7 separate regions of the Homo sapiens genome follow, and all the other regions are reported to be linked to region 1. Evidence: microRNA targets listed by miRTarBase, many of them from high-throughput screens and not tested one by one. Region 1 holds a microRNA gene; each other region holds the end of a gene's coding sequence. Distances are from middle to middle.

Region 1 (4,079 bases):
CAAAACGTATTAGCTGGTAAACACCCATGTTCACAGCAGCACTATTCACTATAGCCCAAAGGTGGAAGCAACTGAAGTGTCCACTGACAGAGGAGGGATCAAGATGTGGTATAGCCACACAATAGAGGTTTCTTTTGTTTTTGTTTTGTTTTTTGAGACAGAGTCTCACTCTTTCACCCAGGCTGGAGTGCAGTGGCGTGATCTCGGCTCACTGCAACCTCCGCTTCCTGGGTTCAAGCAATTCTCCTGTCTCAGCCTCCCAAGTAGCTGGGATTGCAGGCGCCTGCCACCACTCCCTGCTCATTTTTATATTTTTAGTAAGGCCAAGGTTTCACCATGTTGGTCAGGCTGGCCTTAAACTCCTGACCTCAAGTGAGCCACTCACCTCAGCCTCCCAAAGTGCTAGGATTGCAGGCGTGAGCCACCACGCCCGGCCCACAACAGAGTATTATTCAGCCTTAAAAAGGAAGGAATTCCTGTCACGTGCTACTACATGGATGAGCTTTGAGGACACCATGCTGAGTGAAGTCAGTGAGTCACGAAAAGGCAAGGACTGTATGATTCCAGTTAAATGAGGCATCTAAAAAGTAGTCAAATTCAGCAGGGCACGGTGGGTCACGCCTGTAATCCCAGCACTTTGGGAGACCACGGTGAGAGGATCACTCAAGGCCAGGAGTTCAAGACCTGGCAATATAGTGAGACCCTGTCTCTACAAAGACTAGAAAAATTAGCCGGCTGTGGGCCTGCAGTCCCAGCTACTCGGGAGGCTGAGGCGAGAGGATCACTTGAGCCCAGGAATTTGAGGTTGCAGTGAGACTCACTCTGATCTGGGCAAGGGTAAGACCTTGTCTCAACAACAACAACAACAAAAAGTATAAAGTAGTCAAATTCCTAGACACACAAAGTAAAATGGTAGTTACCAGGAGCTGGAGGGAGGGGAAAATAGGAAGCTGTTGTTCAGTGGGTATGGAGTTTCAGAGATGCAAGAAAGTTCTGGAGACCTGTTACACAACAGTGTGAATATACTTAACACTACTGAACAGTACACTTAAACATGGCTAAGATGGCAAATCTTATGTGTTTTTTACAATTAAAAAAAGCAAACAACTTATTGGTTGGGTGAATGAACTCAACGTAACTGGTCACCAGGGAAGTCCTCCAAGCCCCTGAAGAGCCAGGGCAGGAAACTGTCCTAAGAGGTAACTGAGGGTGGGGCATGGCCTGTAAAATCTACAGACAGGTTCCTAGCTCCTAGACAGTCACACAGCTTTGTTCTTTTGGGAGCTAGTTGTCTAGAACTTGAGTCTCTGCGGGCAGACCCTGTTTAGGGTCTGCATTTCTGACAACACAGCAGGTGCTGGCATATAAACGCTTCTGCCACAGAGACACAGTACATGTTTGCTGAGTCAGATGAGTGAATGCATGAATAGGAAAGTGAGTGAGTGATCAAGTAGCGTGTTTGCGAAGGTCAGAAAAGAGAGGGGTGCTTGTTATTGGATGTGCTGACTTCTCACAACACACTTGAAGGGTCTGAGAAGGGAAGGCAGGTTACCGACCTCTCATTGTAGAACTGCAGGGTGTTCTCACTAAACAGTGGCCCTGCCAGCTGGCGGATCATCTGCAGCGACTTCTCACGCTCATCCAGCCCCAGCATCCGGACGTGGGCCACAAGCCAAGCCACAGCACACACCGCCAGACTGCATACCTTCCCTTTGATGTTATCAGTGATTTTCTAGGGGAGACGGAAAGGTGATGGGCTACCATCTATCTCCCTTTCTTGAGCCAACATCACCTTCTCAGCCTCTGCGGGCAGCTAAGTGCAGCGGGTGGAGTCCCGGGCCACATTCCACACCTCTCTCCACAAGTTTGATCTTCCCAGAGCTACCTGGGCCAGAGGGAGTAGCTAAGACAACGATTACACAAAATATCAATATCAAAACATGAGCTCCTGGATTAAAGGTCTTCTTGCCCTTACGAAATATAACAAGTCATCACTGGCTGGCTCTGTGTCTCAGGGGAGCAAACGCTGCTGGGAAGGCGGGGCTACCTGGATGGACTCGAAGGCCAGGACCCCATTCTCCCAGGCATTGAGGATTTCCAAGATGGCGGCTGAGATGCTGAGACAGGCCTCATGCCACTTCATCTGCCTGCGGGTGTGCAGAGAAGTCAGCACAGGGGAGCAAGGAACGGGCTCAGGGAGCGGGTCTTGACCCTGCCCCCACCGCCACCCTTGGAGTGGGCGCCCGGGCCACTGACACTAGCTTCATCTCCGAGGAGTTGTTGAGCAGGGCCACCAGGGACTCCACTTTGGTGGAGTCGGGGCGGAAGCAGGGGTGGTCAGGGTTCAGGATCTTGCCCTCCTCAGGCATGCAGGTCTGCATCCAGGTCTCGAAGAAGGGCACCTCAGCTCCTGTGCGCGACTCGGACAGAATCACCTGGGAAAGGGGAAGGGGGGCACCAGCCGAGTGGGGAGGGCGCGGCGCCTGCCAGCGCTGGACCTGGGGCTGCACTGTTTCCCGCCAGGCTGCTGCTCCAGCCCAGCCCAAAGACTGGGGACGAACTGGTCTAAGGGAGCCAGACGGGGGCAATGCTGCCACCTAGTGGTCAATGTGAACATAGGGCTGAAGGTGCCTCTACGGACTCCAGCCCGGGTGGGCACCTGGTTTCTGAGGCCCACAGAACTAACTGGCTGAGAGGCTGCGGGGGCGCAGGCAGTGAGGTGGGGAGAGTTCCGGGTTACCTCCTTCCCTTGAGCCCCCGTCCCGGTCGCTCCCCTCTCTCACCTCTGAACCATAGGTCTGGGCCACATGGCACAGCATGAGGAAGGAGATGTCAAACAGCAGGGCCCGGACGGAGGCCGGTTTGGCTGTGGAAGGACGGGAAGGCTGAGCTCCCAGACGAGGGCAGGGGGGAGCCCGTGTCTGGGTTGACAGGGATCGGGATTTGCCTCTAGGAAGGTCAGGGACCAAGTGGCTCCTTCAAAGCTCTGAGGCTCAGAATCCTTTTCTTGAGTCTCAACTGGAACATCATCCCTTCCTTGAGACCAAAGACCCCCAGCACCCTCTCCTGGCATACCTAACCAAGTCGTAAAGGGATGAGGGGGGGAAGGAGACACAGGGATGGTCTGGGAAGAATCCTTTTCCAGCATTATCCACTTTCAAGCTCTGTGGAAGCTTCCATTGGTCATGGCTCTGAGGAGGGAGCACAGCCTCCCCCTGTTGAGCTGGGGAGCCCTCCTCCCTCCCACACTCTCCCGCCACACCCCTCCTCAGGGCCCACTGGGCCTGCGGATGCACAGGGCTGACTTACTGCTTTCTTCGCTGCCATAGGTTGTGAATTCATTCAAACTGAAAGGAATGGAGACAGGCTGCATTGACCAGGGCATGAGCTGAGCAGTAGCTGGGCGCTGGGGCTACACATGTTCAGAGAGCGATAGCTAGAGTCTGAGTTACTGGTTAAACTTAAAATGAGACACATTGCTATAGAAAAAAGGTTTTTGTGGTTTTTGTTTTTTGTTTTTTTTTTGTTTTTTTTGAGAAAGAGTCTCGCTCTGTCACCCAGGCTGGAGTGCAGTGGCACAATCTCAGCTCACTGCAACCTCCGCCTCTGTTCAAGCAATTCTTCTGCCTCAGTCTCCCAAGTAGCTGGGATTACAGGTGCCCGCCACCACACCCGGCTAATTTTTTGTATTTTTAGTAGAGACAGGGTTTCACCAAGTTGGCCAGGCCGGTCTTGAACTCCTGACCTCAGGTGATCCGCCCACCTTGGCCTCCCTAAGTGCTAGGATTACAGGCGTGAGCCACCGCACCCGGCCAGAAGGATTTTTATTGTTAGAAGATTTCCAAGGCCTAGAGAATGGCTCACTGAATGGAACCATGTTCTATATATGTCAAATTCCAGGGCAATCAAAAAAGGCAACAGAATTTGAGAGCCCCTTATTAATAACTGGGCATACTTGGAATTCCTCCATGCCCAATGTTCAACACCTCAACCCTTACCCTCATCTCTTTACCAAACATGTCCACTCCATCCTCAGCTGAAGAGAAAGGAACACTTAGGTCGTGAGAACAGGCCCTTCC
Region 2 (4,079 bases), not on the chromosome of region 1:
CAGAAATGGTACTTAAGAATATCAACGTTTAGAATTCAAACATGATTCTAGAAAATTTCTTATCTTAAAGTCAAACTATAACCTTTACTCAATAAAGCATACTCTTAAAGGTCTGTGATGCATGCTTTAAAGAACAGTGATGGGATTCTGGAGTTCTTTCCTTTCTTTCTCCTTCTCCAAAGATACAGATATCTTTCTACAGTTTTCTATGGAATAAGAGACTTCATCATATAAAATGGCTGGCATGTTTTCCCTTTTGAATAGTTCTGATTATAATATCCACCATGAAATTTTACGTTTCCAAATCATAAGCTTAATAGCAAAAGCAAACAATTTGACCTACCACTGAGCTAAATTGAAGAAGAAAAACCTGCATTTTAGAGTATCTGTTATCAAGGGTTAGCAAACTTTTTCTGTAAAGGATCAGATAAATATTTTAGGCTACCTGGGCCATATGGTCTCCCTTGCAATGACTCAACTCTGCTACTGTAGCACAAAGCGGCCATACACAATATTTAAAAGGGTGAGCATGGGTGTGCCCCAATAAAACTTTACTTATGGACACTGCAATTTGAATTTCATATAATTTTCATGTGACACAAAATATCAGTCTTTGGAATTTTTTTCCCAACTATTTAAAAAAGTAAAAACTGGCAGCTGACTGCAATAGCTTGTAGGCTGCACTTTGCTGACCCCTGGTCCAGATCATTCAGATTTCTTGATGTGAGGGTCAAAGCAATAATGTGGCCATGCATCATCTCACTTCACTTGGACATTGATAGCTTTCTGGGCTGATAGTATAGAACTCCGAACAAAAATCCCCAAAGCACAAGACAATCCTACGAGTAAGTAGTATCTACACTCACAGACTGTGTAGAGCTTGTAAGTGTTGATACTCATCTATCTATCTGTATATATATTCAGGAAACATTTAAATCAAATTCATTTAAATTATGTTGTCAAAAAAGCAGGGAATTGCCAGGTGTGGTGGCTTACGTCTAGTAATCCCAGCACTTTGGGAGGTCAAAGTGGGTGGATCACCTGAGGTCAGAAGTTTGAGATCAGCCTGGCCAACATAGCGAAACCCCATCTCTACTAAAAATACAAAAATTAGCCAGTTGTGGTGGCGTGCACCTGTAGTCCCAGCTACTTGGGAGCTGAGGCAGGAGAATCGCTTGAACCCGGGAGGTGGAGGTTGCAGTGAGCCAAGATCGTACCACTGCACTCCAGCCTGAGTGCAGTGAGACTTCATCTCAAAAAACAAAAATAAAAACAAAACAAAACAGAGAATTGAGAAATTCTTCAGCTGAACCCTTTCAAAAGCTTTGGTGTTAGGGAGATCTAGGTTAAAATCTTGGCTCTTGCTGGGAGCAGTAGCTCGCACCTGTAATCCCCACACTTTGGGAGGCTGAGGCAGGAGGACCACTTGAGGCCAGGAGTTCAAGACCAGCCTGGACAACACAGTGAGACACCTGTCTCTATATTAAAAAAAATCTTGGCTCTGCTACTTACTAGCTTGTAACCACAGATAAGTTATTTAACCACCAGAATTTAGCCTGGTGTTAAGGACAGACACGCAGGGGTATGTTTTCAATTTCATTTCTCAGGCAAGCAAATAGCTACAAAAACCTTGCTGGAAAGCCTAGTCCACAACGTACCTGAAGGCTTAACTCCTAGTTTTTGACAGAAAACTACTTTTATCTCTTCTACTCTATTTCATATTTTTTTTTTTGCCGCATGCAACATACTGTGCAAAACTGTGCCTCCATACATACTGAATTCTACTTTTCTCTTCCAAGGCTTTTTCCATAGGTTAACAAAATGTTTTTTTTTTCATAGGCTAACAAAAATGAGAGTAGAAAGTACCCAGTCAACATATTCATGTCGTCTTTCCATAGTGCAAGTATAATTTGGGTGTTTTCTCTAACTTATCAGTGACAGGCATCCTGTTTTCTAGGAAATAATATCTAAATGATATAGGAAAAACTGGTAGGAAAGGATTCTTATGGCTTTATCTATAGAACAAAAACTAGAGATTCTGAAGATCATGTTAATAGATTATTTGTAGATATAATTGCTATGTTTCTTGGACCTTAGCCCATTGCTTAAATTATATTCAGTAGAATATTAGCACTAACTAATATGTGCTATAACCTCTTCAGTCATGAAAAATTTAGTAGTTACATACACATGAAATAAAAGATTCCACCAACAGTGTTTTTGAACAGGCATCAGTTATGAATCTGCTAGTATTGAATGCTAAGCAAAATACTAAAGCTCTTAAAACATTAGTGTTTTATTTTTAACTTTTAACCTATTATTTACAGAAGTCCTGTTAGATGCTGAAAGCAGTCATTTTGCAACATGTATGTTCTTCATATAAAATGATGTTCAATGTTAGGTGGTACAGATTTATAAATATGTACAAACAAAACAGTATGTCTGTAGTTAACCTACTACTCTAGTAACCAACACATGGAAGCATCATATGCACATAAAAGTTAAACATTAAAACAAAACTTAAAACTCTCAAAACAGATAATCATGAATTTGTGTTTATAAAATTATATAGAATAAAGGCTTTGTGTGTGGGGACTTTCAGTGGCCCACCAATAATTTTCATGAAAAAATAAAAATAGAAAAAAAAAACCTCCCAGACACAAACAGACAAGGTAGGCTGGGTGCAGTGGCTCACACCTGTAATCCCAGCACTTTGGGAGGCTGAGGCGGGTGGATCACTTGAGGTTAGGAGTTCGAGACCAGCCCAGCCAACATGGTGAAACCCCATCTCTACTAAAAATACAAAAAATTAGCCAGGCGTGGTGGTGCGCACATATAGTCCCAGGTACTCGGGAGGCTGAGGCAGGAAAATTGCTTGAACCTGGGAGGCGGAGGTTGCAGTGAGCTAAGATCACACCACAGCACTCCAGCCTGGGTGACAGACTGAATCTCTGTCTTAAAAAAAAAAACAACAATAAAAAAAAAAACACAAGGTAAATCAGATGTATGTCTTGGTCAAATGTCTGTAGACAGCCACCTTGAGAACAAATTGATAAACATAAATACACAATTTGCTCACTGAGCATAAAATATTGCACAAGAGCAGTTTTGTCTGAAGAAAATTCAATTTTCCATAGTTTTGAACTTCAGAATGGTTCCCACATATAGATATAGTTGCATTTTCTAAACAAGAAACATTAATATTCAGTAATACTGTTAGAACCTTGTTTTACACATTAACCATATACCAGTCTACTTTATGGCAATGGTAAATCAGTGGTAAAGATTTGGCAAAGATAAAAAGGCAGATAAGACTGTAAAATATATATATATATATATATATATATATATATATATATATATATATATATATATATGTACATATGAAACAAATTATTTCCAAAAAGCCCTAATCATATGATAACTGATCCCTTAAATAAATCCATAGTCTAGGTCACAGTGATGGTCAGACAGTGGTTGAATACGACTCTCTTCTTCTCGGGGGCCGCTCCTTTTGAACCACTTGGTTGCTCTCTCTGGTCTCCAGCACACTGTCTTCTGTTTCGCTCTCACTACCATCTGCCACTGCGGGGTCCAAAGACATCGAACCAGATTTTCCGTGCAAAGGAAAACCAACACCAGTTTCCTGTAAGGAATTATCTATAAAATCTTCATCGGAGGAATGGAATGATTCATCATCTCCTATTAAATGGTTGACAATGTGGATTCCATCAAAAGGAGGTTGGCCTGAGAAGCCCCTCTGGCCTTTTAGGCACCTGAGCTGTTAAAACAAAATCCAAGTTAATACAGTCAAATGGGGGAAACACACACACGCCAAAAAGCAAACATTCCATGTTTAAGGAAGAAGATGCCTTATTATTTTTCTATTTACAGGTATAATCATAGTTACTAATTTTTGAGTGCCTTCTATGTGTTATATATAATGGGCTCATAATTATTTTTATTTTATTTTTTTTGAGACAGGTCTCAGTCTCACTTTGTCACCCAGGCTGGAGTGCAGTGGTGCGATCTCGGCTCACTGCAACCTCCGCCTCCCAGGCTTAAGCGATTCTCCCACC
Region 3 (4,079 bases), not on the chromosome of region 1:
ACTTTTTGCCTGTTATGAACGATGCTGCTATGAGCTGACACGTTTTAAAATTCTGCCTGGAATATACCTAGGAGTGGAATCATGGGTCATGTGACAAGTCTTTAACTTTTTGAAGAACTGCAAAACTGCTTTCTAATGTGGCAGCACCATTTTACACCCCCATTCCTGCCAGTAATATATGAGGGTACAGAGAGCTCTTTTGGTGGCACCTAAGAACTGTAAATAACAGTGTTCACAGTAGTGAATCTTTTGTGTTTGCTTCAAATGCTCAGTATGTGGAAAAGCACACATACACACACACACGGAGAGAGAGAGAGAAAGTGAGAGAGAGAGAGGGAGGGACAGAGAGAGAGAGAGAGAAAGAGAGACTCGGTTTCTGCATTTATGAACTGCTGGAATGACATATTCAGCTTTTCATTTGCCCCAGTACAAGGTGGCCTTTGTTAGAGGGGAAATGTACCAAGATCTCATTTCAAATTGGGAAGACATCCTGGCAAAAGGTCAAGAAGGGAGATTTTATTGTTACATAAGATCTATTTTTTGTGTGATATTTTACCTTTAACTCCCCACATGCCATGCACATTTGTGACTTCATTTATGTTAATAGTGGTAACCAACAGGCCCAGCTAATCTATAACCTGTTTCCTAAAGTGCAGAAAATAGCTACCTTCACCTTCCATTCTTGCTAACTAGTAACTGGAAGATATTGAATCACCATACTGGTGTTGACCAATGAGAAAATAACAGAGCCACTTTGAAGGGTAGAGACAGGCACGTGACCCGACATCTTCCAGTTGTCTATCGGTAACAAGGCACGGCAAAGTTAGCTATTGGCGGAACTCAAACAGTTGTCACAGCAAGCTGCTGGTTGGAATCATCAGATCAGAAACTAGTAATATGAGTCACCCTTAACTTCCAGAACACCTTTCTCCAAGGCCAGATGCAAAACTCTCAGTGACTCTGCCGCTATGACAAGAACAAAGAAATATTGATGAGATCTTGAAGACATCTGCCACGGCCAACATAACCTTATCTTTGCAGGTATATATGACATTTAATGTTATAACATTAATAAGAAAGGAATAGATGTCTTCCTATTTAAGTGAAAGAGTTTGAGAGTGTTTTTTTTTTTATTTTGGCACACCTATGAAGAAAGCAAAATTATGTGATCTAAAAAACAGAGCATATGTGGAAAAGGAAGGCCCCCAGCCTCTTCCTGAATAGCTGGCCAGGAGTTGTAAGCATAGGTCCATGTTGTAGGGGCTGCTCTGGGATGGCCACAAATGGATATGGTTCCATGAGAGGTGGTTCTCAGACTGTGATCTGAGGAACAACCTCTGGGGGTATTATTGAGCGAAAGGGCTCACTCTTCGATGCGCTAGAAGCCAATACTCTGATAAAGGGTTTCGAAGAAAAGCTTTTATTGCAAAGTCGACTCACAGGACACAGGAGTCCAGCTCAAACCTGTCTTCCTGTGCTGGCTTTAAGGAAGTATTTTTATCAGAAAAGACTTAGGGGGTGGATTCTGGGATTAGCAGGTGATTGGTAAAAGAAAGAGGAAATCTAGAAAGTCCTCAGGCATGCACAGTTATCTCTTCATGCCTCATCATGGGTCTCATGTGCAAATTTGGGAGGGAGTTAGTAAGAACCTGTGGTGGAAATTCAGGCTGTGACGTCAGCAAGCTCTTTCTGCGTTAACTCCGGTAAGCCATATTGGTTCCAACAGATAATCTCTTTTTCACACATTTCTGGCTGAAATTTAGCATTTTGTTAGGTTATGAATGTAGACAACAAAACACAGTAGTTTTCATAGCACATGAGTTTGTCAATAATGCAATCACAGATCTTTCCATATTACATTATGAAATTGTAGTGGATATCTCAAAATATTGTTGATGTTGATCATTACATTGAAATTATAGCATTGTTACTTCCACTGTTGGATCTTTTCATTTAATTTGATAATGAAAAAAACACATCTCATGGGTTACTATATCATCTTTAATATTTGGATAAGTGTATCGTAATATGATAAGTTTTCTTTGAAATAGCATGCATTTTGCTTGATGCATTTAAAAACAATGTTGTGAGGAAGAATTCCGTAGGTTTCACTAGGCTGTCAGTGGGGTCCCTGACACTTCGTGTGCTCCAAAACCCCACTGGCCTCACTAGGGCCTTAGCCATCAGAATTATATAGTCAGAATGCCTCTCCTTAAGCATTCTGTGGCAGCCAGAGCCAAATTCCACCAACATATCCTTGATGGTAACATTAAATATTTTTTAAATATCAAGTAAATAACGTTTTCATCTTTGTGGCCTTCCTGAGTTTGTTAGAGGAAAGCTGACAAGTTTCCCACCTTTTTGATCAAAGGATTCCCATGGCTGCTTTTCCATATTTCACCAGTTTCCTAGTTAGCTCAGGCCCTCATCCAAATGCCCCGTATTGTGATAATTAGATGATTTAACAATATTGTTTGTCTCTAGCCTTATGCAGGTGCTGACACATGAGTGTGCAGGGAGAATGAATGGCTTCCTGGTTATAAGAAAAGAAGAAAACACAGAGAAGTAGGTTCATTCATTCCACACACATTCATTTTCAACTCATTTTCAGGTAACATCAAAAGTTAATATTCCTGTTGAACATTAATATATAATTTCCTTATCTCACATTTTAACCCTATAGAATTTTAAGCAAGAAGGTTGCAACTCCTATTTTTACTGGAGTTGGTATTTTCCTAAATATAGCAACTGCTATGATGATTAAAATAGTAATCAATAGACCCTTCCACAAACCCACATCTTATAAAAGACTCCTTGCAGAGATGTAAGAAAAAGGATAATTATAAAGGTTATCATCCTATTGGTGGATTTGGCTGTAGGTTCTGTGATGCCGAAGAGAACCAGAAAGACAAATTCATAAGAGTTTGCTAAACAAGAACCTTAACCCCAAACAGAGATTACTCATGGTCAAAATAGCACAAAATTCAAAATCACTTGCAAATTCACTTGTTTTATTTTTATCTGGCATATAAATTGCATATTTTTATGTGAAATGTGGTTGTATACATTAGAAATAAGATTTACACATTTCAAAGCACACTACTGCAAAAATAAATTATTTTTAACCTCCAAACTCTCTTTTGAGCTTTGCCTGCTCAGATCTCAATCTCACCAGTAGCCCTTTATGCTAAGGATTTCTCAAGACCCTCTTCTTCAAGTGAGTTGACTCTTCCTTTTTCCTCCCCATGAGGCTGCTGACAATTTTACATTATGTTCTTACTTAGGATCACTTTTACTATCATCTTCTGTTTCATCTGATCTTTCCTTGTGTTTGCCTTTTCTTTGCTTATCATGCTCCCCCCACCTATAACCAATTAGGTATATTATTCCTCCCACCGCCTATAACCAACTAGCAGATGTTCTTTCTGGATACTTTCTTGAGATGCTGATTAGCTTCAAGACCTGGAACTGTCACAGAAAGCTTTCTCTTGTGTATTTAACAAAAGAATGGGGTCCATTCTATGATTACAAACGTGGACATACACACACTTCATCATGGACCCAGTTCATCTTCAGTAAATGTCATATGATGAACAGTCACTACCATACTAACCACACAGAGACATTAAGGTAATGCATAGATTTTCCACACCTCCCTAACTGCCTATCCCACAGGGCTAAGGTTTAACCTTTAGGGTTCACACAAAAAACATATAACAAAATTAACAGAAATATTTCACCAATAGTGGGTATGAACAAATTAGCAACACACAATAATTTTTATGAGTATGAAGTATAAGTAGTTTCAAAGTCATTCATAGTTAGTTAGAATCTTGCTGTAAAAATTCACAGAGTGCTTATCCACGTCAATGAAGTAAAATTATGTAGGCTGATGTTTCTGTCAGTCACATCGATGCTTAATACCTGTTAGGAACCAAAGGAAAAGAATTGGGCATCCGGTGTTGAAATTTCCTGCATGCAAATAAATCAGGTGCAAGTATCCAGTCCAAATAACCCCCTAATACTTCTACATTGTATTGTCTAGTTAAAAGACTGCCTTCAAAGTTTCAGATGAGAAG
Region 4 (4,079 bases), not on the chromosome of region 1:
ATGTACAAGCATCATTTACCATCTATAAAACACACACACACACACACAAAAGCTACAAACCTCTAAAATTTAGCCACTCAATTCAAAAAGGGAGCAGGGGGCAAAGAAGTTAATAGGAAAGAGTAAGGCTAACAAGACAGATGATAAAGTAATTTAATAAGAATTCATTGGTCGGGCACGGTGGCTCACGCCTGTAATCCCAGCACTTTGGGAGGCCAAGACGGGTGGATCACAAGGTCAGGACATCGAGACCATCCTGGCTAACACGGTGAAACCCCGTCTCTACTAAAAAAATACAAAAAAATTAGCCTGGCGTGGTGGCGGGCGCCTGTAGTCCCAGCTACTCAGGAGGCTGAGGCAGGAAAATGGCGTGAAGCCGGGAGGCGGAGCTTGCAGTGAGCCAAGATCGCGCCACTGCACTCCAGCCTGGGCGACAGAGTGAGACTCCGTCTCAAGGAAAAAAAAAATAGAATTCATTGAAGGAGGGGAATTAGGTAAGTGCATAAATATATATAGCGTAAGCCAGAATAAAAATGCTTCTTATGAGAAGTACCTCTAAAATATTTCTGGGTTCAGAGATGAGATTCCAACTAATTGAATGGAACAAACGTATATCATAGAAGAGCTAGCACATTAAAAAGACTGTGGAAAGGGTAAGATTTCAGAGCATTGCAGAAGGATAAAAAGGAGAATTCCAAGTGGAAGGATGACCAAGGATGAATCTAGGTCCTGTTACAGAAATTAAGAATAGTCAGCTTTGGTTTGTTTCTTCTAGCTGCATATAGCAATTTCATAGTTAACCTGTCAGATTACTCAAGAATTTATACTTTAACATTTCTATAGATAATAACATTACACTTTCTATCAAGTTCTATACTTATAATTCCAATTCTCACTTAATTTAATAACAAATAGTTCAGTATCCAGACATGAGGGCATTGTATTTCAGTACTTCTATTTGTGTTAATATATTAACATGTAACTGTAAATTAAGAGGTTCACCATGGTAGCTGATGAAGGATTAAAACTTAATGATTGTAGTGATCAAACGCACAAATACATTTGTATAACTAATGAGCAAATGGAAATTCTGAAATGAATTTAAAAAGCAATGGTACTGCTTTCTGAGACTTACAAACATTATTTACTGTAAAATGTAGAAGAATTGAGCCTTAAATGCATTACTGTGCTTAACTGTATAAAAGCAGAAGTTAATTCAAAGTTTCTAAGATGAAATTATCTCTCCAGGCCTACTTCTTATCAGAACCTCTTGAATTCAGATAATTAGTCAAATAGATAAGCATGTTCTTTCAGTATTTTCTCACTAAAGATAAGAATAATTCAAAGAGATGACTTCCACTGTAGGAAAATGATACAATGGGTTTATCATTTACGATGATCTTCTGAATTTGATCCCCATTAGTGAACAATGAATATGTCAGTGGCTTATATTGTTGAATAATTTTATGGACTCTTAGTCAGGTGAACTTTCCTTTCACAGATGACTATTCAATTTTATCTTTTTTAAAAAAATGTAACCGATGCCAGAATTATTACTCTTTATCACTGTATTTTTCCATAGAATGGAAATTTCTATTTTTCTTACCAGCCAACTTGAAATAAGACCTGAAAATATCTATTTTGGTACAAGAAATGATAGTATAAATGCTCACGAAACTGAAACAATCAGAAAATTCTAAATGTCTTCCCAAAGATGAGTTAAAAGACAGGAGAAGGCAGGAACAAATATGTTAAGAAGATTTAAGGAGCAATATATTTTTTTAAATGAGTTAACAATAAAGTTGCTTTAAAAAATTAAATACTTTTCAAATTTTGAAAGTAAAACAATAAGAAAACTGAGTTAAAACCTGCACTAAAAGTATGCAAAAGAATAAAAGAGAAGAAATGAGAAGGATTGGGACCCTTAACCAATGTCCACATATTAAAACTAAGTAAAATAATATTTCTACTTACATGTGCAGTGACACACAGGAAAGATATCAGCTAAATAAAAATAAACTGCAGCAGTACTCAGTTAACAGTACAATAAAAAATAATTATTTCATTATGATTGCATCATGTGTTCATTGGCAGGAAGGAAGCAAAGGAAAAAAAGAAGACGGGAGAAGGAGAGATGAAGGCAGGAAAAGAGAGGAAGTAAGGCAGACAGGAAGGCAAATAAGAAGAAAGTAAGCAAAGAAGGGAGAGAGAAGAAAGCACATTTCTAATTAAAACACAAGCATAGTAGGCCATAATAATGATTGTCAGTCAAGATAAGACCTAAATAATCCCTTCAATTTCTTGAATTCTTACTAGTGTGTTGGGGATTTTGCTGGTACTTTTTTAGGAACTAAGTCTCTTTTAAGCACTTTAGATGAAGAAATAAGACAATCTGAGTTATAGCATAGCAGAATAAGTCTTTTGTCCATGTGGTCTCCTCTCTGTAGGTTCAGAGACAAAATGCTAATAATTATAGCAGATTCTATTTTATCCACAGAAGGGTTCCAAATTCCATCATTGCAACTTTTGTAGATAGGACATAAACAAATAACACTATGACTGATTTTCTCTGTAACCCACACTATACCTCACTCAGTGAATGAACATGGGTTTGGTCAGGAGATCTGAATTGCCAGATAGCAAACATCCACACATAGCTCTTAATAAATTGAGGCTTCTTTATAAAAATTGCTGTTTGTATGCAGCACTTGGCCCTGCCTCATCTGTACCCTATACGTGTCTGATTCCCTGCCAGTATTTATACATGTCCCAACAGCAGCCTGTTTCATAGGCCTCAACAGGTAGAAGGGTTCAGGAAGTGATATACATGATACGTTGTATTATCAAGGATCAATTAAAAGAACCAAACTTTGAATTAATGCAGTTACAACACAGTAGCTCCCATATACTTTACAGATTTAAAAATTCCAATTATACAGTGTTGGAAAAATATATATTACAGCACATTTTAATTCTACTTCTTCATGTTTGAATATTTGGACTGTCTAATATTGAGGATTGCTTTTAAAGTTTATGTAAATCGTTTTCCACAGACGCTAAGGAAGATTATCATATGATTCCCATCAAATTATTTCTGTGTTCTACAACGACAAGCTATTTGTGCTGCATTCGTGATAAATAGTTCATTGCTTGAACTTGCAATAATTAAAGTTCCTTTGGAAATTTCACATCAGAAACAACACATTTCTCGAGTTTTTATTAACTATTGAATACTACAATATGATTTACATTTTTTTGAGTGTTATATTTAAAATGAGGTTTCCTATTAAATTAAACAAACATTAAAACATGAAAGCAGGTCAGAAAGGAGCCATTGGAACTATGTTGACAACAGCACCACATCTCCTACTGTTGTTTCGGAGTCCTGACTGTGGTTAGAACTGATACCAGTGTCCGAGTCTGTGTCATTTGTGTAATTGCTAAATACTCTTTGAGTAAAGGGAGGAATCTCCCCATTGCTACTGGGAACCTCAGATTCCTTCGCTCTGTTTTCCTTTAACTGGCACCCATCTTTGTTGCTAATGTGAAGTGAATTGAATTCCTTGGCCAGGAGTTCATATTCTTTTGCTTTCATCTGAAGCAATGAGTCACTGTATTTAATCTCTTTCTGGATGCCACTCAAATGAGAGTGAATTTTCAAACCAGCTTTCATGCTTTTCTCCAAATCACACTTAACACTCTCTAAATTAGAGCTTTCCAGTTCACTTGCAGCTTCCCCTTCCGCATCTTCATTTATATCAATGCAAACACTTTTTACCTCTTTTTCTATTTCAGCAGAGAGCTTATCAATGAGTATTCGGTAATATTTCAGTCGTTCTTCCAGCTGTTCAATTCCATCACTTTCGCTCAGGTCCTCCAGAGTCTGGTTTTCCTCATACTGCAAGTCTAGATTTTGCTCAACTTCACTGAAACTGGGCATTAAATATGCATCCTGAACATAGTTTTCTCCATCATTTTCTACTCGATCAAGATGGAACTTAGCTTCACACTTTTCAATTTCCAGATCCAGCTCTTTCATTCTCTTGACTTGCTGATGAATAGTATGGTCCTGGGAAATG
Region 5 (4,079 bases), not on the chromosome of region 1:
ACATACCTACTCCCACTTCACCTTCTGCCAAGAGTAAGAGCTCTGAGGCCTCACCAGAAACCCAGCAGATGTGATACCATGCTTCCTCTATAACCTGCAGAATCGTGAGCCAATGAAATCTCTACTTTACAAATTACCCAGTGTCAGGCATTGCTTTACAGCAATGCAAAACTGACTAAACACCACAGGATCTTTGGGAGGCTGAGGCGGGCAGATCACCTGAGGTCAGGAGTTCGAGACCAGCCTGGCCAACATGGTGAAACCTGACCTGTACTAAAAATACAAAAAATTAGCCAGTCGTGGTGGAGGGCACCTGTAATCCCAGCTACTTGGGAGGCTGAGGCAGGAGAATCACTTGAACCTGGGAGGCGGAGGTTGCAGTGAGCCAAGATTGTGCCACTGCACTCCAGCCTGGGCAAGAAGTGTGAAACTTTGTTTCCAAAAAAAAAAAAAGGGGATCATCCCAATAGATGCAAAAAAGTTCAATACAACTTGATGAAACACTCAATAAATAATGAACAGAAGGGAACTTCTTCAAACTGAATTAAGGCATTTATTAAAAACCTGCAGCTAACATCATACTTGATCAGGAGACTAAATGCTTTCTCCATCAGATTAGATAAAAATATTGTCATATCACAGGGCTATCCTTAAGTCAAAATGAACCATCCAAATAATACTCAGAAATAACGACAAAGAGTAAAGAGCAAAAAATGGGAATGATTCACATGAGACAATACTCTATGGTAAACTTTACATACTGATAAATTGATACCAAGTCCTTATTAGCAAAGAAAATGGAGTCAACATTGTATCATGCCAAAAAGAGTAGTTTTCCCCATAATAAAGGAAAGTGGAATACATATGATGGGTGAGGAATATGCAGAATCTGCCACATAACACCAGTAAGAAATCTCTATTAATAAAGACTCATGGGCCGGTCGCAGTGGCTCACTCCTGTAATCTCAGCACTTTGGGAGGCCAAGGTGGGGTGGATCACAAGGTCAGGAAATCAAGACCATCCTGGCCAGTACAATGAAACCCCGTCTCTACTAAAATACAAAAAATTAGCCAGGCATGTCGGCACGCGCCTGTAGGAGGCTAAGGCAGGGGGATTACTTGAACCCGGGAGGTGGAGGTTGCAGTGAGCCAAGATCGCGCCACTACACTTCAGCCTGGCGACAGAGCAAGACTCAGTCTCAAAAACAAAAGAAAACAAACAAAAATAGACTCATTTTGTAATGGCCCATTCATCACAGAACAATTAAACACTACATAAAAATTAAACCTGCTTACATATTAGAAATAAATTTCACTTCACCCACAGATCCAACACTTTAAAATGGATAGAAAAAAATGAAAACCAAAATGGATAGAAAAAAATTTTATTAACTAACTTAGGATAAAAACACTTCCTATTAAACCTCAGGTACCACTGCTTAAAGAGTATCATTCTCACATTTCCTTGCAAAAGTGGAAACCCATAATCCAAAGATCCTTTTTAAGAATGAGTCACAGGGGCCGGGCAAGGTGTCTCATGCCTATAATCTCAGCACTTTGCGAGGCTGAAGAGGATGGATTCCTTGAGGTCAGGAGTTCAAGACCAGCCTGGCCAATGTGGAAAAACCCTGTTTCTACAAAAATACCAAAAATTTAGCTGGGCATGGTGGCGTGCGCCTGTAATCCCAGATGCTTCGGAGACTGAAGCAGGAGAATTGCTTGAACCCAGAAGTCAGAGGTTACAGTGAGTCAAGATCGCGCCACTGCACTCTAGCCTGGGCAACAGAGTGAGACTGTGTCTCGGGAAAAAAAAAAAAGGCCAGGCGCGGTGGCTCACACCTGTAATCTCAGCACTTTGGGAGGCCAAGGAGGGCGGATCACAAGGTCAGGAGTCTGAGACCAGCCTGAACCACATGGTGAAGCCCCGTCTCTACTAAAAATACAAAAAAATTAGCCAGGCGTGGTGGCATGTGCTTATAATCCCAGTTACTCAGGAGGCTGAGGCAGGAAAATTGCTCACACCCAGGAGGCGGAGGTTGCAGTGAGCCGAGATTGTGCCACTGCACTCCAGCCTGGGCGACAGGGCAAAACTCCATCTCAAAAAAAAAAAAAAAAAAGAAAGAAAAAAGAATGAGCCACTGATAAATGCTATATATTTATAACTTTGTGTAATAACTCATTCATGATTAAGTTTTTGAGCATTATATAATAATTAATTTGCATCAGGCTTTCAAAATTACTTACGTTTATAGGATTTCTTTCGAGTGGATGTTCTCACATGATTAATTTTTTTAGACAGGGTCTCACTGTTGCCCAGGCTGGAGTCCAGTGGCGCAATCTCCACTCACTGCAACCTCGACCTCCCAAACTCAAGCAATCCTCCCACCTCAGCTTCCTGAGTAGCTGGGACTACAGGCGAACACCATCATCCCTGGCTAACTTTTCTATTTTTTGTATACATGGGATTTCTCCAGGTTGCCAGGCTGGTCTTGAATACCTGGCCTCAAGCAATCTACCCACCCCAGCCTCCCAAAATGCTGGGATTACAGGGGAGAGCCACTGTGCACAGCCCATGTGAATTTTAATTATTGTTAAAATGGAAGTTTCCTGTATTTTCCAAACTACTAACGTTTCCATCCAGTGTGTATTCTTCGATTCATACCATCCATCTCCAGTGTGCACTGACACGTGTCTTTGAATGGAGATGAGAGCAATGAGAGTTTCCCCATATTCTGTACATTTCTACAATTTTTCTCCAGTATGAGTCCTTTTATGGCTCTGAATAGAACTGGAATATCTGAGGTCTTTGGATTTTTTTCCAGTTAGTCTTTTCATATCTTTGGAAACTGAATGTATTCCCATATTCCTTACATTCATAGGATTTCTCTCCTGTATAAATGAGAATTATTTCTTTCCCTTTTTTTCTGAGACAGAGTGTCACCGTCATCCAGGCTGGAGTGTAGTGGCACGATCTCAGCTCACTGCAGCCTCAACCTCCCAGGCTCAAGGGTTCCTCCCACCTCAGCTTTCTGAGCAGCTAGAACTACAGGGATGCACCACCTCACCCAGTTAATTTTTTTTTTCTTTGGAGATATGGGGCCTTCTTTTTTTTGTTTGTTTTGAGACGAAGTCTCGCTCTGTCACCAGGCTGGAGTGCAGCGGCGCGATCTCGGCTCACTGCAACCTCCAAGTCCCTGGTTCAAGCAATTCTCCTGCCTCAGCCTCCCGAGTAGCTGGGACTACAGGCACACACCACCACGCCTGGCTAATTTTTGTATTTTTAGTAGAGACGGGGTTTCACCATGTTGGCCAAGATAGTCTCCATCTCTGGACCTCGTGATCCACCCACCTCGGCTTCCCAAAGTGCTGGTTTTACAGGCATGAGCCACCACGTGATATGGGGCTTTTTTGTGTGTGTGTGTGATGGAGTCTCACTTTTGTCGCCCAGGCTGGAGTGCAATGGCGTGATCTCGGCTCACTGCAACCTCCACCTCCCAGGTTCAAGCGATTCTCCTGCCTCGGCCTCCCGAGTAGCTGAGATTACAGGTGCCCACCACCATGCCCAGTTAATTTTTTTGTATTTTTAGTAGAGACGGGGTTTCACCATGTTGGCCAGGCTAGTCTTGAACTCCTGACCTCAGGTGATCCACCCGCCTCAGCCTCCCAAAGTGCTGGGATTACAAGCGTGAGCCACCGTACCCAGCCGATATGGGGCCTTCTTATGTTGCCCAGGCTGGTCTCAAACTCCTGGGCTCAGGTGATCCCCCTGCCTCCTGCCAAAGCACTGGCTACGCCCGGCCAAATGAGTTCTTTCATGAAGTCTAAGGTAATTTGAAAAAGTAAAGACTTTACCACACTGTTTACAATCAAAGGGTTTTTCTCCAGTGTGAGTCATTTCATGTCTTCGGAGGGAACTGCACCACCCAAAGGCTTTACCACACCTTGTACATTCATATGGCTTTTCTCCACTATGAGTTTTTTTATGTCTTCGAAAACAACTGGGATAATTGAAGGTTTTACCACATTTATTACATTCATAAGGTCTTTCTCCAGTGTGAGCTCTTTCATGTGCTTGAAGG
Region 6 (4,000 bases), 8.5 Mb from region 1:
CTGTCCCTGCAGGAAATACAGCTCTCTCTAACCCTCACTGACAGATTTTATGGCCAGATTAGCAAACAGCGGAAAACTTGGGTGTTAAAAGGGGCCCAGAGAACCCTCCTTTTCAGAGACATCCCTCCCCCGCCCCCCTGTCCTGCTGTGAATTTAACAGCACGGATATTTTACCCACGTCTTTGGCTGCTTTAGCTGAGCGCCTGGAATCTTCCAAAGAGAAGGATAGGGAACACCAAGCCAAGTTGGTTCTTATTTTTCTTGTTTGCAATTCCAGCTTCGAGCCAAAGCTCTGTTTTTCAAACTTAAGCTAAATTCTCTTTCTTGGCCTCTTTCCTGCTAGATAAATAACAACCCAACCCAGCCCCAGAGCCAAACATGGTGCTTCATCTAGTTATATCATTCAGAAAATGTTATTCAAGGAAGAAGAGAGAAAGAGAAAGAAAGAAAAACCCTTGAGCGTTATTTGATCCCAATCAAACTTTGCACGCTCTTATGCCTTTAAATTATAGCCTGACCCAATGCTAAATTGCTTGCTGCTTGGATGAGTCCAGTTAAAATCCTACTTGGTGGTGGGGAAGGGGGAGGGCGTAGAGTTCAGGTTGCTTTTTTATTGTTATTTATTGTTGCATAAAGACTATAATTACTAACCTTGGACTGCCAGGATGCAACATAAAAATGAAAATCAGCCCTCTCTTTAAGGCAGGGCCTGGAACGATTCTCACTCCCCCAACATCACTACCACCAAATATATGCTCCTAATTAAGCAATGCGGGCACATCGCTTACAATTAGAATTATGCAGCTCTTCAGCAAGCAGCCATCGCTTCTCTTTCAACGAATTAGCTCCATATTTCAGCCGCCCTGTCTTCTCGCTCTTATCGGCTCCAGCGACTCGGCGGTGACATTTCATCTTTGACAGACCTTCTCTATTTTCACTCCAATGTGATAAAACTTTTATGGAACCACAACTAAGAAATGAAGTTTTCCCAAGGATGATGGAAACAGAGCCGCACATTAGCCTGGGGACCGTTTTATTTACGCTTGGATCCAACAGCTTCTCCCACCCTCCTCTCCCCTTTCTCTGGCAGGGGAAATCGAACGTGCTTCCCCTCCCTCCGCCTCGAGTTTTATTTAGTGATTTAATTTTACTTAGTTTTAAAGTTTGACCTGAGAAGTCTAGGCCTCAGTTTTGTTTTTTTTTTTTTTTTAGATTAATCATTTTTCTTTGTTTTCATTTTAGACCCAATGGTGGTTGGGCTTCGGGTCACGTGACACCTTCTTTGTGGCTCCGGAAGAGGATTGTGAAGTTTAGGTTTCGTGGAAGAAACCGTAATCGGCCAGATTTTCTTGGTGGTGGTGGGAAGGGGTGGGGGGTGGGGGGTGCATGGACGCTGTGGCCAAAGGAGCTAACAGACGAAAGGTCAATGAATGAAAAACCTAGAGGCATACAGGCCAAACAGAAAAACCTACAGAGAGCATCCAAGAGTCCCCCGTTACCTCCCAACTTGCTACTTAAACCACAGCTGAAGAAGTTGGCAAAATGTTACAGGCTCTTATGAGTGAGAAAATGGTATTTAAACTTAAGACATATCAAGGGGGAGACAGGAACCTGGGCAGTGGACAAAAAGGCCAGGGAAGGGTCTTCAGTGTCCTTGTCCTTGTCCTTCTTCCCTTGGGGGAAATTTGGCAGTCAGCAGCCTTGCTCTGCTATCTAAATTGGACCACCAGGACAAGATAAAATTGATAACAGAAAGTTTATTCAAGAATTGTTTGACAGACAACCCTTTTAGGTAAGGAAAAAAGTAACTACTGAAGAACAAAGAAAGTTCCAAGAGGGAATTAACTCTAGTTCTACAAATTCAGGACTATACAGTGACGATTAGGAGCTGAGTTCATGCCTTTTAGAACTAATTACAATTGTTCGTAAGTACGAGTTTAACATAAATCTACAGCTCTTTTCTAGAGTACAATAGTAACTAAAATAGCTGGTTTTACATGACAGGAAACACAATGTCCTTTGTAACAGGTAAATACTAAAAAAGTACAATTTTTTCCTTTTTTTCCCTCATATAAATACATAATGTAGGGGGATAAATAATACAAAAAAGAAAATATTTTAACAGGCTATAACCAATAAATATATATGAAAATGTTCACTAGAACACACGCTTTTTTGAGCAATGCTGGACTTCTGCAGGCCCAGACATCTCTCACAGTTGTTTTTACATCCATTAAAATGTAAATTCTAAGTGCAACAAAAGTGTCCTGTCAGGAGGCTGAGCAAGGCACACAGGCCCTGCCCAGCCCCTGCCTGGGACAGTTTGTTCAAATATACCCTGTTTTCACGTTAAGTCAAGAGAGCAACAGAAGAAAAGTATAGAACCTCGTGTCACCAACTGCTTTCTGTGGAGAGGGGGATGGAGCTGGAGCTGAGATGGAGGCAGCAGAATGGGCAAACCTTCAGTCCTAACAACCTGCCTGCCCTAGCCTCCACACTTTTCCTTAAAAAAAAATGTATATAATTTATAATATAGGCAGCTCTTTCAGGATCTCTCACCATCCCTGAGCCCTCTAAAAACTGTAATTGATGGGGGTGGGATGTATAGATATGAATGTTCTAGAGCAGAAAAACCGGGGGCTAGAAGTGTACCTCAATAAACCTCAAATGGGAACAAATTTGAGGTTTTGGGAAAGTTGGAAGGGAACGTGTTTTGTGCCTTTTGGGTTTGAAATGTGTTTTCTTATTTTTTAAAGGATAATTGAGGAAAAAAAAAAATCAAGATTTGGGGGGAATTACCTACAAAGATGTAAGGTAAGTCCGTTGGTTGGTGATGGCCTAGCCATCTTGTCTGGTTTTTAAAATGTGCTTTTCTGCCTCGTCCTGTCTCGTCTTCCTCTACCCCACTCCCGGGCGTGGAATTCCAACTTGGTAGTGCTGGAGCCCTGGGGTTGATGGGGTCATCTCCAATATGATGTGGATTCCTTTCCGATGGGTTGGCAGGCAGATGGAACAAGGGGTGGAAGACTTAAAAGCAACCTCTCAGGCCAGGGGGAAGGGAAGGAGCTCCAGGCCGGTTCTGACCAGGAAGCCTGGGTACCACCTTCTCTGGCTCCTCTTTTCAGACCTCCAGGTTGCCCCCCAGAGCTCCACAGTCTCTCTCTTCCTCCCCATCCCCTAATCCTCGTTCGCCCTTTCCCATCACAGGTGTGTTAATTTGGGCGCTTCTTGGATTCTACCCTGAGGAGGAGGCGCGTGGTGAGAGGAGAGGTCTGTGTAGGTGGGGTGGGGTTCGCAGGGTCCGTGGTGCTGGCTGGGCGCCATAGGGGGCGCCCCGTTGTAGTCCAGGTTCCCGGAAGGGTGATGGGAAAGGTGGTTGAGGCCATAGAGGGAGGGGCCGGCAGGGGGCGGCAGCGGATCCGCGTAGCCGCCCCCGCCCACGTACACCGGACTGCCCTGCATGGTGGGCGTCCCGTAGGCGCCCCCGTTGGCTTGGAGGACGTGCGGCTCATACTCGGGCGCCGGGGTCGGAGGGTACTTCTGCGGGGCGCCGCAGCCTTTGAGAGGGGGCTGGTAGTTGGAGGGCAGCGCGTAGGCATTCTGGTGGGCTTTACCGAAGGCGGGTGGGGACGGGCTCTCGTAGCTGGGGGTCATGGAGTGTAAGGCGTTCATGAAGCCGGCCGTGGACTGCATGGGCTGCGGGGGGCTGCCGGCTGGAGATGGGCCCCCCGACGACGAGGCCAATCCCTTGGCCTTCTGGTCCTTCTTGTACTTCATGCGCCGGTTCTGGAACCAGATCTTGATCTGCCGCTCGCTGAGGTTCAGCAGGTTGGCCATCTCTACACGGCGAGGCCGGCACAGGTAGCGGTTAAAATGGAACTCCTTCTCCAGCTCCACCAGCTGCGCGCTCGTGTACGCCGTCCGCGCCCGCTTGGACGCCGCCGACCCCGGGGGGCTCTTGTCCCCTCCCCCGCCGCCGCCGCCACCGCCCCCGCTGCCA
Region 7 (4,079 bases), 28 Mb from region 1:
TGAAATAGAAAAGAAACAGAAACAGGACATAACAAAAGCTTTAAAAGCTAAAGCATTTACTGGCAGAAACTGTGTCTTAGTCATTTTTAAATCCCCAGCACCTAGCCCGACATCTGGCAAATATACACATTCGATATGCTCATGAAATGAATTAATGAAAAAACAAACTAGGAGAGAATCAAGCTCCAAAGGGATTCATTTGTATATGATAATAGCTTTTGGAACTCTGCTTCACCTGATTTAGGCAGAGAAAAATAGAAACGTGTTTCTACATATCAGATGCATTCCATCAAAGGCTGCTGAGAAAACCTGGAAGGGGGCAGGCATAAAGGCAGCCATGTCAGTCCAGTCTTTCCTCCCTTGGATCTGCTGACAAGAGCAAGGCTGGTTGGCTGGGCTCTGGGTCTGATCTAAGGTGCCTCTTCTCATGTTTTATCCTCAGGCTGGGATCATTACAGAGGCAAAGCTGAAGGATCTGACACCCCCTATGCCTGTGATGTTCATCAAGGCCATTCCTGCAGATAAGCAGGACTGCCGCAGTGTCTATTCCTGTCCTGTGTACAAGACTAGTCAGCGGGGACCCACCTACGTGTGGACTTTCAACCTGAAGACTAAGGAAAACCCATCCAAGTGGGTTCTGGCTGGAGTAGCCTTGCTTCTCCAGATTTAGCATCCTGCAGAGCCACCGAGAAAATAAAAAAGCTGGGCTTGGAGGCTGCCTAGAGGGACAGGTGGGTGAAGGGTCACCACAGACACTTAGAACGGTAAGAAACCATGAGCACTCACAATTCTGTAGAATTCCTCTAGGGAACTTGGAGAGGTGTGCCTAAGGTGAGGCTGAGCTGAAGGAATGTGGGCCCAGGTTTCTTAATAAAATGATTTACTCTTCAACTGTGTCTGGCCCAGGATTTGAGAGCTGCTGAATCATAAATGATCATGTAGAGACCAAGAGAAACAAACCACAAGGGCCCTGACCTTGTTACACAACACTATCCTAGGTGCTCTTCTTCCAGGCTACCCCACGCAGTCCTTGGACCAGTGGTATTGGCATCACCCATGAACCAGAATCTCCATTTTAACAATCTCTCTGGAAAATCTGTATGCACATTATAGTTTGAGAAACACTATCCTGGAGCAGGGGTCACCAACATTTTTCCATAAAGAGCCAGTTAGTGAATACTTTTAGTGATTTACAGGCCACAATGCCTCTGTTTGAACTTTGCAACTTTGCCGTGGTAGACCAACAGTAACCATAAATGATGAGTAAATGAAGGGGTGTGATTGCATTCTAACAAATTTTATTTACAAAAACAAGCAATGGGCCATATTTTGCTGATCCCTGCTGTAGAGGATAAGGGATGTGTATACTGATATTTATCCTTCATTAATTCATGCATCCACTCAATACATTTTAATCTGACACCTACTATTTGTTGTGGATACAATGTGAACAAGCAAACAGGAAGTATCTCCATCATCCTTTCGATCATTTAAGAGGAAGCCAAGAAGAAATCTTTACTGTAAAGCCTTTTTTTTTTTTTTGAGATGGAGTCTCGCTCTGTCACCCAGGGTGGAGTGCACTGGGGCAATCTCTGCTCACTGCAACCTCTACCTCCTGGGTTCAAGCGATTCTCCTGCCTCAGCCTCCCAACTAGCTGGGATTACAGGCGCCTGCCAACATGCCTGGCTAATTTTTATATTTTTGGTAGAGACAGGGTTCCACCATGTTGGTCAGGCTGATCTTGAACTCCTGACCTCAGGTGATGTGCCTGCCTCAGCCTCCCAAAGTGCTGGGATTACAGGCGTGAGCCACCGCGCCTGGCCATTCTAAAGCTTTTTAATCTAAAAGTTTTCTAGATTTACCTCCGTGGAACAAATTTTCACTGGAAGTCCAATGGGTTTAACAGTTTTGATGAGTTTTAAAAAGCTCTATGAGGCAGCTTGTTTGGTAAGAAAAGTATGGGAGGACCCAGTATTCCTTCTGTGATTATTCCCTCCTAACCTTGCAGAAACTTAATTTTGTGATTACTGTTTTGAACAGTGGTTCTTAAACTTGAACAGGCATCAGAATCCCCTGGAGGGCTTGTTAAAACAAAGATTACTGGGACCCGCCCTTCAATATTTCTGATTCAGTAAGTTTAAACAAATTGCCAATGCTGCTGGTCTGGAGGCCAGTTTGAGAACTCGTGATTTAAAACCTCAAATCCCATCATCCTATAAATCTCTGCTATATAGAATATGGAATCTGATGCTAATTCCTCTATGATTTTCCTGCTTTCTTCCTTGCAGTTCCTGCACCCCCTAAGTGGGGCCTTCTCATCTTCATGATACAAGGGAGTTAATAAATTTTACTGCTGGAAGCCAGGACCTCCAGCTTGGGTGTTGTCCCTCCTCTCCCATCAACTAGTAATGCACTTGCAGTTTCCTGACTATAGGTTAATCTGTTTTCAGGGAGATAACTCTGTCCACATTAGCATCATCCTTCCTGAGCCTCACCCATAGTAGTATAATAACATCAGGCAGGCCGGGCACAGCGGCTCATGCCTGTAATCCCAGCAATTTGGGAGGCTGAGGCAGGCGGATGACAAGGTCAGGAGATCAAGACCATCCTGGCCAACATGGTGAAACCCCGTCTCTACTAATACAAAAATTAGCTGAGTTTGGTGGTGCGTGCCTGTAATCCCAGCTACTCGGGAGGCTGAGGCAGGAGAATTGCTTGAACCAGGGAGTCGGAGGTTGCAGTGAGCCGAAATCACGCCACTGCACCACTGCATTCCAGCCTGGCGACAAAGCAAGACTCTGTCTCACCAAAAAAAAAAAAAAAAAAAAAAAATCAGGCCTAAAGAAGGAGGTGGAAGATGGTGGGAGGTGGAAGATGGTGGGAGGGGGAAGTCTCACTGTCAGGCCTCTGAGCCCAAGCCAAGCCATCGCATCTCCTGTGACTTGCACCTATACGCCCAGATGGCCTGAAGTAACTGAAGAATCACAAAAGAAGTGAAAAGGCCCTGCCCCGCCTTAACTGATGACATTCCACCATTGTGATTTGTTCCTGCCCCAACTTAACTGAATGATTAACCCTGGGAATTTCCTTCTCCTGGCTCAGAAGCTCCCCCACTGAGCACCTTGTGACCCCCGCCCCTGCCCACCAGAGAACAACCCCCTTTGACTGTAATTTTCCATTACCTTCCCAAATCCTATAAAACGGCCCCACCCCTATCTCCCTTTGCTGACTCTCTTTTCGGACTCAGCCCACCTGCACCCAGGTGAAATAAACAACCATGTTGCTCACACAAAGCCTGTTTGGTGGTCTCTTCACACGGACGCACATGAAATTTGGTGCCGTGACTCGGATCGGGGGACCTCCCTTGGGAGATCAATCCTCCGTCCTCCTGCTCTTTGCTCCATGAGAAAGATCCACCTACGACCTCAGGTCCTCAGACTGATCAGCCCAAGAAACATCTCACCAATCTCAAATCCGGTAAGTGGCCTCTTTTTACTCTCTTCTCCAACCTCCCTCACTATCCCTCAACCTCTTTCTCCTTTCAATCTTGGCGCCACACTTCAATCTCTCCCTTCTCTTAATTTCAATTCCTTTCATTTTCTGGTAGAGACAAAGGAGACACGTTTTATCCGTGGACCCAAAACTCCGGCGCCGGTCACGGACTGGGAAGGCAGCCTTCCCTTGGTGTTTAATCATTGCAGGGACACCTCTCTGATTATACACTCACATTTCAAGGGTGTCAGACCACACAGGGACGCCTGCCTTGGTCCTTCACCCTTAGTGGCAAGTCCCGCTTTTCTGGGGAAGGGTCAAGTACCCCAACCCCTTCTCTTGTCTCTACCCCTTCTCTGCTTTTCTGGGGCAGGGGCAAGTACCCCTCAACCCCTTCTCCTTCACCCTTAGCGGCAAGTCCCGCTTTCCTAGGGGGCAAGAACCCCCCAATCCCTTATTTCCACACCCCAACCTCTTATCTCTGCGCCCCAGTCCCTTATTTCCACGCCCCAACCTCTTGTCTCTGCGCCCCAATCCCTTATCTCTGCGCCCCAATCCCTTATTTCCACACCCCAACCTCTTATCT

Evidence for each region. The annotated mature microRNA hsa-miR-6884-5p reads AGAGGCUGAGAAGGUGAUGUUG and lies in region 1 at 1,784-1,805, opposite strand. An mRNA with a match to its seed (bases 2 to 7 or 8) in the 3' UTR can be bound and repressed. Matches are read on the target gene's strand: a 7mer-m8 pairs with bases 2 to 8, a 7mer-A1 pairs with bases 2 to 7 and ends in A, and an 8mer does both.
Region 2: the mRNA of EVI5 is a reported target of hsa-miR-6884-5p. Seed matches in the 3' UTR shown: 7mer-m8 at 2,854-2,860, 7mer-m8 at 2,718-2,724 and 7mer-m8 at 1,405-1,411.
Region 3: miRTarBase lists MGAM as a target of hsa-miR-6884-5p. Seed matches in the 3' UTR shown: 8mer at 3,247-3,254.
Region 4: miRTarBase lists RASSF9 as a target of hsa-miR-6884-5p. Seed matches in the 3' UTR shown: 7mer-A1 at 2,670-2,676 and 7mer-m8 at 349-355.
Region 5: miRTarBase lists ZNF101 as a target of hsa-miR-6884-5p. Seed matches in the 3' UTR shown: 7mer-m8 at 1,995-2,001 and 7mer-m8 at 1,562-1,568.
Region 6: miRTarBase lists HOXB3 as a target of hsa-miR-6884-5p. Seed matches in the 3' UTR shown: 7mer-m8 at 2,275-2,281.
Region 7: the mRNA of DNAH9 is a reported target of hsa-miR-6884-5p. The part of its 3' UTR that is shown has no 7-base or 8-base seed match.

The regions. Positions count from the first base shown.
Region 1 is chr17:40,024,600-40,028,678 of GRCh38, forward strand. MIR6884 (microRNA 6884) reads right to left here and starts at 1,810; the gene lies at 1,733-1,810. MED24 (mediator complex subunit 24) reads right to left here. Exons shown (of 26, transcript NM_014815.4): 15 at 3,310-3,347; 16 at 2,784-2,866; 17 at 2,257-2,435; 18 at 2,048-2,147; 19 at 1,557-1,732. SNORD124 (small nucleolar RNA, C/D box 124) reads right to left here and starts at 3,046; the gene lies at 2,943-3,046. RefSeq lists an enhancer at 2,048-2,958.
Region 2 is chr1:92,510,190-92,514,268 of GRCh38, forward strand. It overlaps EVI5 (ecotropic viral integration site 5), which reads right to left. Exons shown (of 20, transcript NM_001350197.2): 20 at 1-3,781. The coding sequence ends at 3,467. Among named protein-coding and RNA genes, the nearest start is that of GFI1, 25 kb to the left of the region's middle.
Region 3 is chr7:142,105,659-142,109,737 of GRCh38, reverse strand. MGAM (maltase-glucoamylase) reads right to left here. Exons shown (of 71, transcript NM_001365693.1): 71 at 2,991-3,924. The coding sequence ends at 3,847. Among named protein-coding and RNA genes, the nearest start is that of MGAM2, 4.0 kb to the left of the region's middle.
Region 4 is chr12:85,801,362-85,805,440 of GRCh38, forward strand. It overlaps RASSF9 (Ras association domain family member 9), which reads right to left. Exons shown (of 2, transcript NM_005447.4): 2 at 1-4,079. The coding sequence ends at 3,341. Among named protein-coding and RNA genes, the nearest start is that of RASSF9, 33 kb to the right of the region's middle.
Region 5 is chr19:19,679,961-19,684,039 of GRCh38, reverse strand. ZNF101 (zinc finger protein 101) reads right to left here. Exons shown (of 4, transcript NM_033204.4): 4 at 534-4,079. The coding sequence ends at 3,740. Among named protein-coding and RNA genes, the nearest start is that of ZNF101, 13 kb to the right of the region's middle.
Region 6 is chr17:48,547,133-48,551,132 of GRCh38, forward strand. It overlaps HOXB3 (homeobox B3), which reads right to left. Exons shown (of 5, transcript NM_001384749.1): 5 at 1,738-4,000. The coding sequence ends at 3,202. It overlaps HOXB-AS1 (HOXB cluster antisense RNA 1), which reads left to right. Exons shown (of 7, transcript NR_102279.1): 4 at 1,243-1,331; 5 at 2,757-2,814; 6 at 3,208-3,270; 7 at 3,892-4,000. Among named protein-coding and RNA genes, the nearest start is that of HOXB2, 4.0 kb to the left of the region's middle.
Region 7 is chr17:11,968,858-11,972,936 of GRCh38, forward strand. It overlaps DNAH9 (dynein axonemal heavy chain 9), which reads left to right. Exons shown (of 69, transcript NM_001372.4): 69 at 443-891. The coding sequence ends at 670. Among named protein-coding and RNA genes, the nearest start is that of ZNF18, 27 kb to the right of the region's middle.